2 separate regions of the Homo sapiens genome follow, and region 2 is linked to region 1. The links come from fine-mapping of genetic effects on gene expression. A gene starts in region 1. The other region holds a variant in brackets. All regions are shown on one strand. Distances are from middle to middle.

Region 1 (5,000 bases):
CACAGAATCAAATCGTTCCAGAAACACTTAACAGAACTCCAACTGCAAAGCCCCGGGCGCCTTCACAAAGGGACCCAGGCCTCTCTTCTTTAACCTGCCCGCACTCAGCCCCTCTTAACTAGGTACCACACAGACAAAGACAATGACATCAGTCAATGGTAAGTGGAGCAGAGGAGGGCAAACGAAATATAGCGGGCCACTTCCCATCATTTCCACTGTTATACCTTTGGCTCAAGCCAGCATCACCCTGTCTTGGATTAATGCTGGTCTCACTGCTTCCATTCCTGCCCTCTGCCCTGTCTTCCCCAACTATTCTCACCAAGGCAACCAGAGTGACCCTTCATAAGTAAAGGTAAATCACATGGGTCCTCTGCTACTCACTTCACCTGGGCAGGAAAGCCAATGCCTTGCCAAGGCCGAGGAAGTCCTGCCCTCTCTGCCTAACTCCCTCCCCAAACTCTATTTGGCTCCTTCTGCTCCAGCCTCACTGGCCTCTTGTCCCAAACACGTCATATCTGCTCCCATTTCAGAGCCTTTTCACTTCAGGTTCCCTCTACTTGGAACAGCATTCTCCCAGATAATTCCACAGCTGCTCAATTCCACAGGTTGCTCGCTTCCTTTCTTTATTTTCTGCTCATTTGTCACTTCATCAGTGAGACCTTTCCCGACCACACTATACAAAATATCAACATCTCTTCACCCCATTTTCAATCTGATTTTTAGCATTTTGCGGAATATGTTTCTCCTAAAACGTTAGGCTCGATAAGAAATAGGCTTTCCTTGTGACTGCTGTATCCTCTAACGCCTAGAAAGTGCCAGACCCCTAAATATTTTTGAATATTCCAGGGAGCCGGGTTAAGAGAGAGGCCACCACAGCAAAGGTGGTCAAAAACGGTCTCTTAAGAGGTGCGCAAGTCGGGTGTAGTGGCTCACGCCTGTAATCCCAGCACTCAGGGAGGGTGGTTGGAGCCCAGGTGTTCGAGACCAGCTTGGCAACACACTGAGTCTTCTCTATAAAAAATAAACAAAAAAAACCTAGCTGGGTGTGGTGGCGTGCGCCTGTAGTCTCAGCTACTCGGGAGGTTGAGGTGGGAGGATCGCTTAAGCCAAGGAGGTCAAGGCTGCAGTGACTTATTTTATTTATTTATTTTTGAGACGGAGTCTCGCTCTGTCGTGCCCAGGCTGCAGTACAGTGGAGCGATCTCGGCTCATTGCAACCTCCGCCTCCCGGATTCAAGCGATTCTCCCGCCTCAGTCTCCCAAGTAGCTGGGATTACAGGCACCTGCCACCATGCCCATCTAATTTTTAGTATTTTTAGTAGAAAAGGGGTTTCACCATATTGGCCAGGCTGGTCGGGAACTCCCGACCTCAGATGATTCGCCCGCCTCGGCCTCCCAGAGTGCTGGGATTACAGGCGTGAGCCACCGCATCCGGCCTGCAGTGTTACGATCGCGCCACTGCACTCCAGCCTGGGCAACAGAGCGAGACCCTGTCTCAGAGGGATCCTATTAACTGACAACTAAGAAGGCGCAAACCATACGAAGATGTAAGCATGCCAGGCAGAAACAACCGCAGACACACAACGCCAGACACGGGAACAAACCTGTGCTGAAAGAAGGGAAAGGCAGCCAGGGTGGCGGGAGCGCAGGAAGATGAGAAAGGGCCGAAGTTGGGAAAAGTGGGCCGAAACGGCAGCAGGCATAGCCGGGGGCGGTGTTCAGGAGCTGCCTCCCGACCCAGTTGGCCTTGCAAGAGCACCTGAAACTAGGCAAAACGAGTCTCCGCTCCCCAGACCCGACCGGGCGTCAGCCACCTCTGGCGGTTTTACAGCCCCGAAGCCCCCATTCCAGCTCGCAGCGAGGCAGCGGAACACCTCGAGGATGTCCTGGCGTTCCAATCTGCGCCCCCGCCGCCCCGAAGCCCTCACCGCAGGCTGGGTAGCCAGCCCACGGAGCTCCCCCCAGGGTCCCGACTCCCCCTTCGCCCACCTTTCTTGTCGCGCTTGGATTTGGGCATCGCGCTGAATCCACGTGCGGCGGAAGACGGTGCACCCCGTTAGGACCCCGGCGGCGCGGGGGACTCTGGGACGGCCCTCGGGGGCTGCCCCTCGCGTGTGCCTGACCCAATGTGCACTGCAGCCTGCCTCTCCCTGCCAAGCCGCCGCCTGCGCTTTCTCCCGCGCCTGTAGGGCAACTTCCCGTGTGCCGAGGCAGTCCCTGAATCCCGAGCGTCCCGTCCGACCGAGGGCCTCGCGCGCTATCCCAGCTCTGTGGTCCCGCGGAGGCGGAGCCCGCGGCGCGGTGCATGCCGGGACGGCGGTGGGTGGTGCATGCGCTCGCATCATGGCGGCTGAGTGGGCTTCTCGTTTCTGGCTTTGGGCTACGCTGCTGATTCCTGCGGCCGCGGTCTACGAAGACCAAGTGGGCAAGTTTGATTGGTGCGTACGTGTGGAACATATTCGAGAGATAAGTGGCTGTTTCCCCAGTACCTGTCTCCTACCTGCTAAAGGTTGTCACTTAACAGGATTGGCCGCATAATTTGCAGGACCCAGTACAAAATGAAAACGTGGGGCCCCTTGTTAAAAAATTATTAAGGATTTAAAGTCGTTGGAAGCAGAGCCTTAAACCAAGTGTTAGGGGTCATTCTAAGCTGATCCTTGCGTGTAAGCCGGCCCTGCCATCCAGGAATGCTTGGGGTGCCGGTCAGAGATCACTGATCCCGTCCTCCCTCGTCAGGTTCGATTTTTTTGACTGTGAGGTTTCTGGTCTACCAGGTGTCAGAGGTCGCCAAGCTGTCAGTGAACTTTAATTCCTACTCGAATTGGTGTCTTGTAGGCAAGTGAACAGGAGCTTTCGTCTTAAAAGTCCTAAACTGAGTCCTTTTCCCCTCTCATCAACCTAGTCTGGCCCTGGGCTCACAGCAGGATTGCCCAAAACACTAAGCAGCTAGAATATGCCATTCACTCATTCATTCATTCACCCACCCACGTCTTCCTTAAGGCCCTGGAGTAGCTTGCTTTTGTTTGAATTTTACTAGTTAAGACTTGTGTGATCTTGGGGAAAGTGACTTAACCACTCTGTGCCTTGGTTTCTTTGTCTGTAGAATGGGTTTACTAACAGTCCGTTATCTCTTACAGTACTTGTGAGAATGAATGAGACAATCCCATTAAATTACTTAGCACAATGCCTGGCTCATTGAATGCAGTCATTAAGCGTTATCTGTTATTATTGCTATTTACACTTTATTCTTCAGGGCCCAGGTCAGATTTCTCCTCCTCTGAAGTATTTTCTGTCTTGGAAAAGTTGATTCGCATATATGTTGAGTACCTGTTATGCCAGACAGTGTGACAAATAAAACATGTTACATTTTTAATGATGTGCACAACTGTTCACAATGTCATATGTGTATGTTACACATATATATCGGGTGATATGTGTATCTAATTTTGCAGAATACTTGATATATGCAATTTTCTTAATTTTATTTTCATGAATGAATGAATGAATGAATGGCATTTCCTAACTGCTTAGTGTCTTGGGCAGCTCTGCTCTGAGCCCAGGGCCAGGTTAGGCTGATGAGGGGGGAAAAGGACTCTGTTTAAGACTTTTTTTTTTTTTTTTTTTTTTTTTTTTTGAGACAGTTTTGCTCTTGTTGCCCAGGCTGGAGTGTAATGGCGCGATCTCATGGCTCACCACAACCTCCGCCTCTGGGGTTCAAGCGATTCTCCTGCCTCAGCCTCCCGAGTAGCTGGGATTACAGGCATGCGCCACCACACCCAGCTAATTTTTGTATTTTTGGTAGAGACAGGGTTTCTCCATGTTGGTCAGGCTGGTCTCAAACTCCCGATCTCAGGTAATCCACCCGCCTAGGCCTCCCAAAGTGTTGGAATTACAGGTGGGAGCCACTGCGCCCAGCCAAGACTTTTTAAAATTTTTTGAGACAGGGACTCATTCTGTAGCCCAGGCTGGAGTACAGTACTATCATGGCTCACTGCAGCTTTGACCTTGCAGGTTCAAGTGACCCTCCCAGCTCAGCCTCCTGAGTAGCTGGGACTACTGGTGCACACCTCTCCAGTTTCTTTGTATTTTTTGTAGAGACGGGGTTTTGCCATGTTGCCCAGGCTGGTCTTGAACACCTGGGCTCAAGCAATCTGGCTGCCTCGGCCTCCCAAAGTGCTGGGATTACAGGTGTGAGCCACTGCACCTGGCCTACAGTTTTCAGATTGAAAAATAAATGAAGACATACAGGTATGCATCACTTAATGATGGGAATACATCCTGAGAAATGCCCTCTTGTGCAAACGTTGTAGCATGTACTTATGTAAATCTAGATGGTTTAGCCTACTACACACCTAGGCTATATGGTACAGCCTATTCTTCCTAGGCTACAAACCTGTACGGCATGTTACTTTACTGAAAACTGTAGGCAATTGTAACACAATGGTAAATATTTGTGTATCTAAACATAGAAAATGTATGGTAAAAATAGGATATGAAAGATAAAAAATGGTACACTGGTATAGGGCACTTAACATGAATGTATCTTGCAGAACTAGGAGTTGTTCTGGGGTTAGTCAGTAAGTGGTTGGTGAGTAAATGTAAAGGCTTAGGACATTACTGTACACTACTGTGGACTTTATAAATACTGTGCATTTAGACTATACTAAATTTATAAAATTTCTTCAATAATAAGTTAACCTTAGCTTAATGTAACTTTTTTACTTTACAAACATTTTATTTTTTTAATTTTTGACTTTTGTAATAATACTTAGTATAAAACACAGACTTTACAGCTGTACAAAAATATATTTTTAAAATTTATTTTTGACATGGGATCTTGCTATGTTCCCCAGGCAGATATTGAACTCCTGGACTCAAGCAAGCCTCCTGCCTCAGCCTCCCTAGCAACTGGGATTACAGGCATATGCTACCATGCCTGACTTAATAATATTTTTCTTATATCTTTATTCTATAAGCTTTTTCCTACAATACTAAAATTT
Region 2 (5,522 bases), 21 kb after region 1:
GGATGTGGGGCTGTGGTGGAGACATTCACAGCATGGCTGTCTCCTGCATGCCTGATCCCTGACCTCTTAGTCTCCTATTCCAAGATTCCAGCTGGGTTTAGTTGTTAAGAGCCAGTTAAGCAGTTTTTGGAAGCTCCTGCATGAGCCTCACCTGAGTGTGAGACTTTGGGCATCAGATACAGGACTGCCCTTTGGGCTTGTGGCCTAGAGTGTGGACTTTATTGCTCCAGAGGAGAGGCAGAGATCCCTCATTAGGAAAATCATGTACCTCCTTATGGACCCCTAGTCTGATGTAGAGTATGTTACTTTTCCTTTACACCAGATGGCTTGCTGGGGATGTTCCTGAAACGCCTCTCGTCTCAGCTTATCCTGCTGCAAGCATGGACTTCCCACCTCTGGAAAATGTTTTATGATGCTCGGAAGCCCCGGAGTCAGATTAAGAATGAGATCAACATTGACACCCTGGCCAGAGATGAATTCAACCTCCAGAAGATGATGGTGATGGTAACAGCCTCAGGCAAGGTGAGTGGGGTTTAAGCTCCAGTTACTGAACCTTTTCAAATTCTGAGGGTGAGGAACAAAAAGCCTTCAGTGAGGGATAACACTGGTTCTAGTTTTCAAGGACAGACTCAGTTCTTTGGTTTCTCTTTCTAGTAGTGAGCCAAGTATTTGTTTATCTTGCAGCTTTTTGGCATTGAGAGCAGCTCTGGCACCATCCTGTGGAAACAGTATCTACCCAATGTCAAGCCAGACTCCTCCTTTAAACTGATGGTCCAGAGAACTACTGCTCATTTCCCCCATCCCCCACAGTGCACCCTGCTGGTGAAGGACAAGGTGAGGCATCCAGCTCTGACTTGAGCCAGACTCAGTGTGGCTTTTTTGCTATTTTGTAACTTAAATTGCTCCTAGGCCCTTGGAATTGTGTGAGTTAATGAGGAACATTCAGGGGTTAGAACTCTGTTTCTTCTAGTTTCATGCATGGGTGGAGGAACCATCCAGCACTGATGTGGAATTGTTTAGAAAGTGGGTGTGACTTCACCAGCTATGTAGGGAGCCAGCTCTCCTCTTTTCTAAACATTGGCTGTTGGTTGCTGAGTGGCTATTTTCTCTTCTCTCTTTGAGGAAGAGCAGGACACAAAGATATTTTTGTGTCTTCCCAGAATTAGAATGGATTTTTGTGTATTCATTCTAGCATAGAAGGCGGGCTTGGTAGACACTTTCCTGGAACGGCTGCCTGGTGCGATCTCGGCTCACTGCAGCCTCCACCTCCCAGGTTCAAGCAATTCTTGTGCCTCAGCCTCCCGAGTAGCTGGGATTACAGGCACACGCCATCATGCCCGGCTGATTTTTGTATGTTTAGTAGAGACAGGGTCTCACCATGTTGGCCAGGCTGGTCTCAAACTCCTGACCTTAGATGATCCACCTGCCTCGGCCTCCCAAAGTACTGGGATTACAGGTGTGAGCCACCACGCCCGGCCAGGTTGCTGAATTGTTACTTGACTTTTTTATTAGTTCTTGTTTAGAACTGGCAGAGCAGCCAGGCGCGGTGGCTCACGCTTATAATCTCAGCACTTTGGGAGGCCAAGGAGGGCGGATTGCTTGAGTCCAGGAGTTCGAGACCAGCCTGGGCAACATGGTGAAACCCCTCTCTACAAAAAATAAAAACAGAATTAGCCACGTGTGGTGGTTTGTGCCTGTAGTCCCAGCTACTTGGGAGGTTGAGGTGGGAGGATCACTTGAACCTGGGAGGCAGAGGTTGCAGTGAGCCTTGATCATGCCACTGTACTTCCAGCTTGGGTGATAGAGAGAGACCCTGTCTCAAACGAAAAAGAACTGGCAGAGACAGTTTGACTTTTTTCTTTGTGACGTTAGCCTAGGGGACTATTCACCTACAGCCAAGAACTTATTTTCCACAAAGAGGGCAAAGACTAGAGAACCCCCACAGTTGTTGAGCTGGAGTCCCAGCTCTTCAGGTCTATCCCTAGGATTTGCAGTCTTTTCTTGTTGGTGGAGCCTGACAGTTTGCTCATTTTAGGAGTCGGGAATGAGTTCTCTGTATGTCTTCAATCCCATTTTTGGGAAGTGGAGTCAGGTAGCTCCCCCAGTGCTGAAGCGCCCCATCTTGCAGTCCTTGCTTCTCCCAGTCATGGATCAAGACTACGCCAAGGTGTTGCTGTTGATAGATGATGAATACAAGGTACTGTCTTCAGAGGGGATGGAGAACATGCTAGCGGAGTC[C/G]GGTTTGGGGCCAGGTGGTCAAACACAGCGGCCCGGAGATGGAGTGCTCTCTGCACCCAGCACGTGTTTGGGCTCTAAGGCCATCCCGAAGAGAAATGATGGCTGTGTCTGCATTTGTGAAAACTCAGGTTCTTAACAGAACTGAATGTAAACCCTAAACTGAGTTCAAATCAACTGATTTGCAGTTTTATTCTTAAGGCTCTCTTTGATGGGGAAATTTCCTAACTCTTTCCTTGGGCTCTCTGGGTTTTTCAAGGTCACAGCTTTTCCAGCCACTCGGAATGTCTTGCGACAGCTACATGAGCTTGCCCCTTCCATCTTCTTCTATTTGGTGGATGCAGAGCAGGGACGGCTGTGTGGATATCGGCTTCGAAAGGTAGGAAGGCATGTCCTGGCACAACCCTTTGTGGATGAGATGCAGGTGTTTCCTGGCCATTTGGCTAAGAAGTGAATTATGCTACTCATTCTACTGTAAACTTAGATTAGCATAATCCTGATGTCTGATACAAAGTCAATCATTTGTTCATATTTGTTGGGCAGCTACTACATGGCAGATACGGTTCTAGGTGCTGTGGATGGAGTGGTGCACAGTAGAACAAATCTCTGCCCTTGTGGAGCTTTCATTCCACATTCTTTTTCTTTTTTTTTTTGAGATGGAGTCTTGCACTGTCGCCCGGGCTGGAGTGCAGTGGTGCGATCTCGGCTCACTGCAACCTCTGCCTCCTTGGTTCAAGCGATTCTCCTGCCTCAGACACCCAAGTAGCTGGGATTACAGGCGTGCGCCACCGCGCCCGGCTAATTTTTTGTATTTTTAGTAGAGACAGGGCTTTGCTGTGTTGGCCAGGATGGTCTCAAACTCCTGACCTTGTGATCCACCTGCCTCAGCCTCCCAAAGTGCTGGGATTACAGGCGTGAGCCACCGCGCCTGGCCCCATTATTTTTCTATAGCAGAGAGATGGGACTTTTTTTCCATTCTTGGGAGGGTAGAAGGTAGGAATGTGGGTTGAGTAATAAGTTGTACTTTTATATGAAGATGATGTTGACCAACTCGTGATGGAATGTGTGCTTTGAATTTTATTTCTAGAAAGGGGGTCAGTTTGCTTTAATCCTCACATACTTGAGACCAACTCTTGTAAACAGTAATACACGCTGGCTGTGAAGTCCAGCTCTGAAGTTCACGAGGGGCTGGCATGGCCTTGTTAGCAGGACTGTTTGGAGAAGTACTCTGTGGTGTGTACTCACAAACAGCTCTCCCATCCTGTCCTGTAAGGCCTTTTGAGAGGCATAGAGTTTAACCAATTTGCTAGATTGGAAGTCTAGGTTTGTCACTTACTAACTTTGTGACCTTGGGCTCTGGTCTTCTGTTTTCTTATCTGTAAAATAAGGTGATAAGTACCTGTCTCATAAGGTTGTTGTGAGAATTCAACACATAAATCACATAAAACTGCCTGGCACATGGTAAATGCCATCTGAGTTGGAGGTGCTGTTGTTTTGAAAATGCAGCGCCCTTTTGTGACATTTGTAACAGCTAACCTTAGCATAAACAGCACTGGAAATGGTCTGCCCAGAAGACACATCCTTTACCCTTGTGAATGAAAACATAAATAAATAAAATCATCCTTCTGAGTTAATAAAAAGAGGACCTTGAAAGAGACAGTTTTGTAGATTCAGGGGAGTGAACTGGAGTGTGGGTGTCATGAATCTGGAGTCCTGAGGACATCATCTGAGTGAACAATGACCAAGGAAGACAAAGGAGGCAGAGCTGTCTGTGGGAAGTGAGCCAGCTGTGTGCGCGAGTCCGGGACCACAAGGGAGTGTGCTGCCTTTGCCCTCACTTGGTGACCTTCCTCTCTGGGGATGTTTTAGTGAGTTCTTATGTTTTCAAAGAAGGTTGTGGCAATGAAGGCTTATTATTAATAATTTTCACTATTTTAAAAATTTAGGTAATACATTGAGTATATTCTCATTGTAAAAGAGTCCATTGATACAGAGAGGTGAACAAGCAAAATGTGAACAGACCCTTGTAGCCCCATTCCCAGCGGTCTTCCCCTCCCCAGGTGGAAAGCCTGTCAGCAGTTTGCTGTGCCTCTTTCTACTGTCCTTGTGTATTTATGATTCCCTATCAACAGCTGTGTGGACACACGTGTGTGGCTCATACTTTATTTATTTTTTTTTAGAGACAGAGTCTCGCTCTGTCACCCAGGCTGGAGTGCAGGGGCGCAGTCTCAGCTCACTGCAACCTCTGCCTCCTGGTTTCAAGCGATTCTCCTGCCTCAGCTTCCCAAGACTACATGTGCACGCCACCATGCCTGGCTAATTTTTGTATTTTCAGTAGAGACGGGGTTTCACCATGTTGACCAGGCTGGTCTCAAACTCCTGACCTCAAGTGATCCTCCCGCCTCGGGCTCCGAAAGTGCTGGGATTACAGGTGTGAGCCACCACGCCCGGCCCATTTTATTTTTTTTTCTCATTCACATGCAATTGACCTATATTTATTCTTATGAAATTTGCTTTTTTTCATTTAATGGGTTTTCTACCTCATTGTTTTGTCAACTTCAGTTTTTTATTACAGAAAAATATTGACAAAAGTGCAAAATCATGAGGTATGGCTCAGTGAACCCTCACCAAGGGAATACACTTGTGTACCTGGTGACCACTTCAGGAAACAGAATAGCACCAGCTCCTAGAAGGCCCTTGTGCCCTTTGCCAGTAACTACCTCCTGTCTCCACCCCCAAGGGCTCCGCATAATTCCATAGGATGGATGTATAATAATGTATTTAACCATGAGTGTTTATTGGTTGGTTTCCTATGACCATAAACAATCATACACGAAATGTTTTGAGCTCCCTGTTAGCTTAGACATTCACTGCTGGCCCCAGTATACAGGGATCTTGGAGTTTAGTAATAAATGGTAAATTTTCCTTGCATATTTCCTACTCAGATAAACAACGGGATACTATTGAGCGTTCGCCTCCTTTCCTACTGGCTTTATTATCTTTTTTTTTTTTTTTTTGAGCCGGAGTTTCGCTCTTGTTGCCCAGGCTGGAGTGCAATGGTGCAGTCTCGGCTCACTGCAACCTCCACCTCCTGGGTTCAAGTGATTCTCTTGCCTCAGCCTCCTGAGTACCTGGGATTAAAAGCATGCGCCACCACACCCGGCTAATTTTGCATTTTTAGTAGAGATGTGGTTTCTCTATGTTGGTCAGGCTGGTCTCAAACTCCCGACCTCAGGTGATCCACCTGCCTCGGCCTCCCGAAGTGCTGGGATTACAGGTGTGAGCCA

Alleles and levels. Alleles are on the strand shown, and positions count from the first base shown. SD is a standard deviation of normalised expression in the study named.
As copies of C replace G in region 2, the expression in liver of the gene that starts at base 2,048 in region 1 goes up (moderate effect, 0.51 SD a copy in GTEx).

The links.
Region 2: its variant is fine-mapped to the expression of MRTO4 in liver (GTEx, PIP 0.94).

What each region holds. Positions count from the first base shown.
Region 1 is chr1:19,248,853-19,253,852 of GRCh38, reverse strand. It overlaps MRTO4 (MRT4 homolog, ribosome maturation factor), which reads right to left and starts at 2,048. Exons shown (of 8, transcript NM_016183.4): 1 at 1,990-2,048. The coding sequence starts at 2,017. It overlaps EMC1 (ER membrane protein complex subunit 1), which reads left to right and starts at 2,329. Exons shown (of 23, transcript NM_015047.3): 1 at 2,329-2,438. The coding sequence starts at 2,344. RefSeq lists enhancers at 1-94, 1,911-2,416.
Region 2 is chr1:19,227,936-19,233,457 of GRCh38, reverse strand. It overlaps EMC1 (ER membrane protein complex subunit 1), which reads left to right. Exons shown (of 23, transcript NM_015047.3): 14 at 323-522; 15 at 685-834; 16 at 2,036-2,197; 17 at 2,495-2,614. The region is part of intron 1 of EMC1-AS1 (EMC1 antisense RNA 1); the gene reads right to left. Among named protein-coding and RNA genes, the nearest start is that of EMC1-AS1, 20 kb to the right of the region's middle. The variant C/G (reference allele first, on the strand shown) is at 2,239.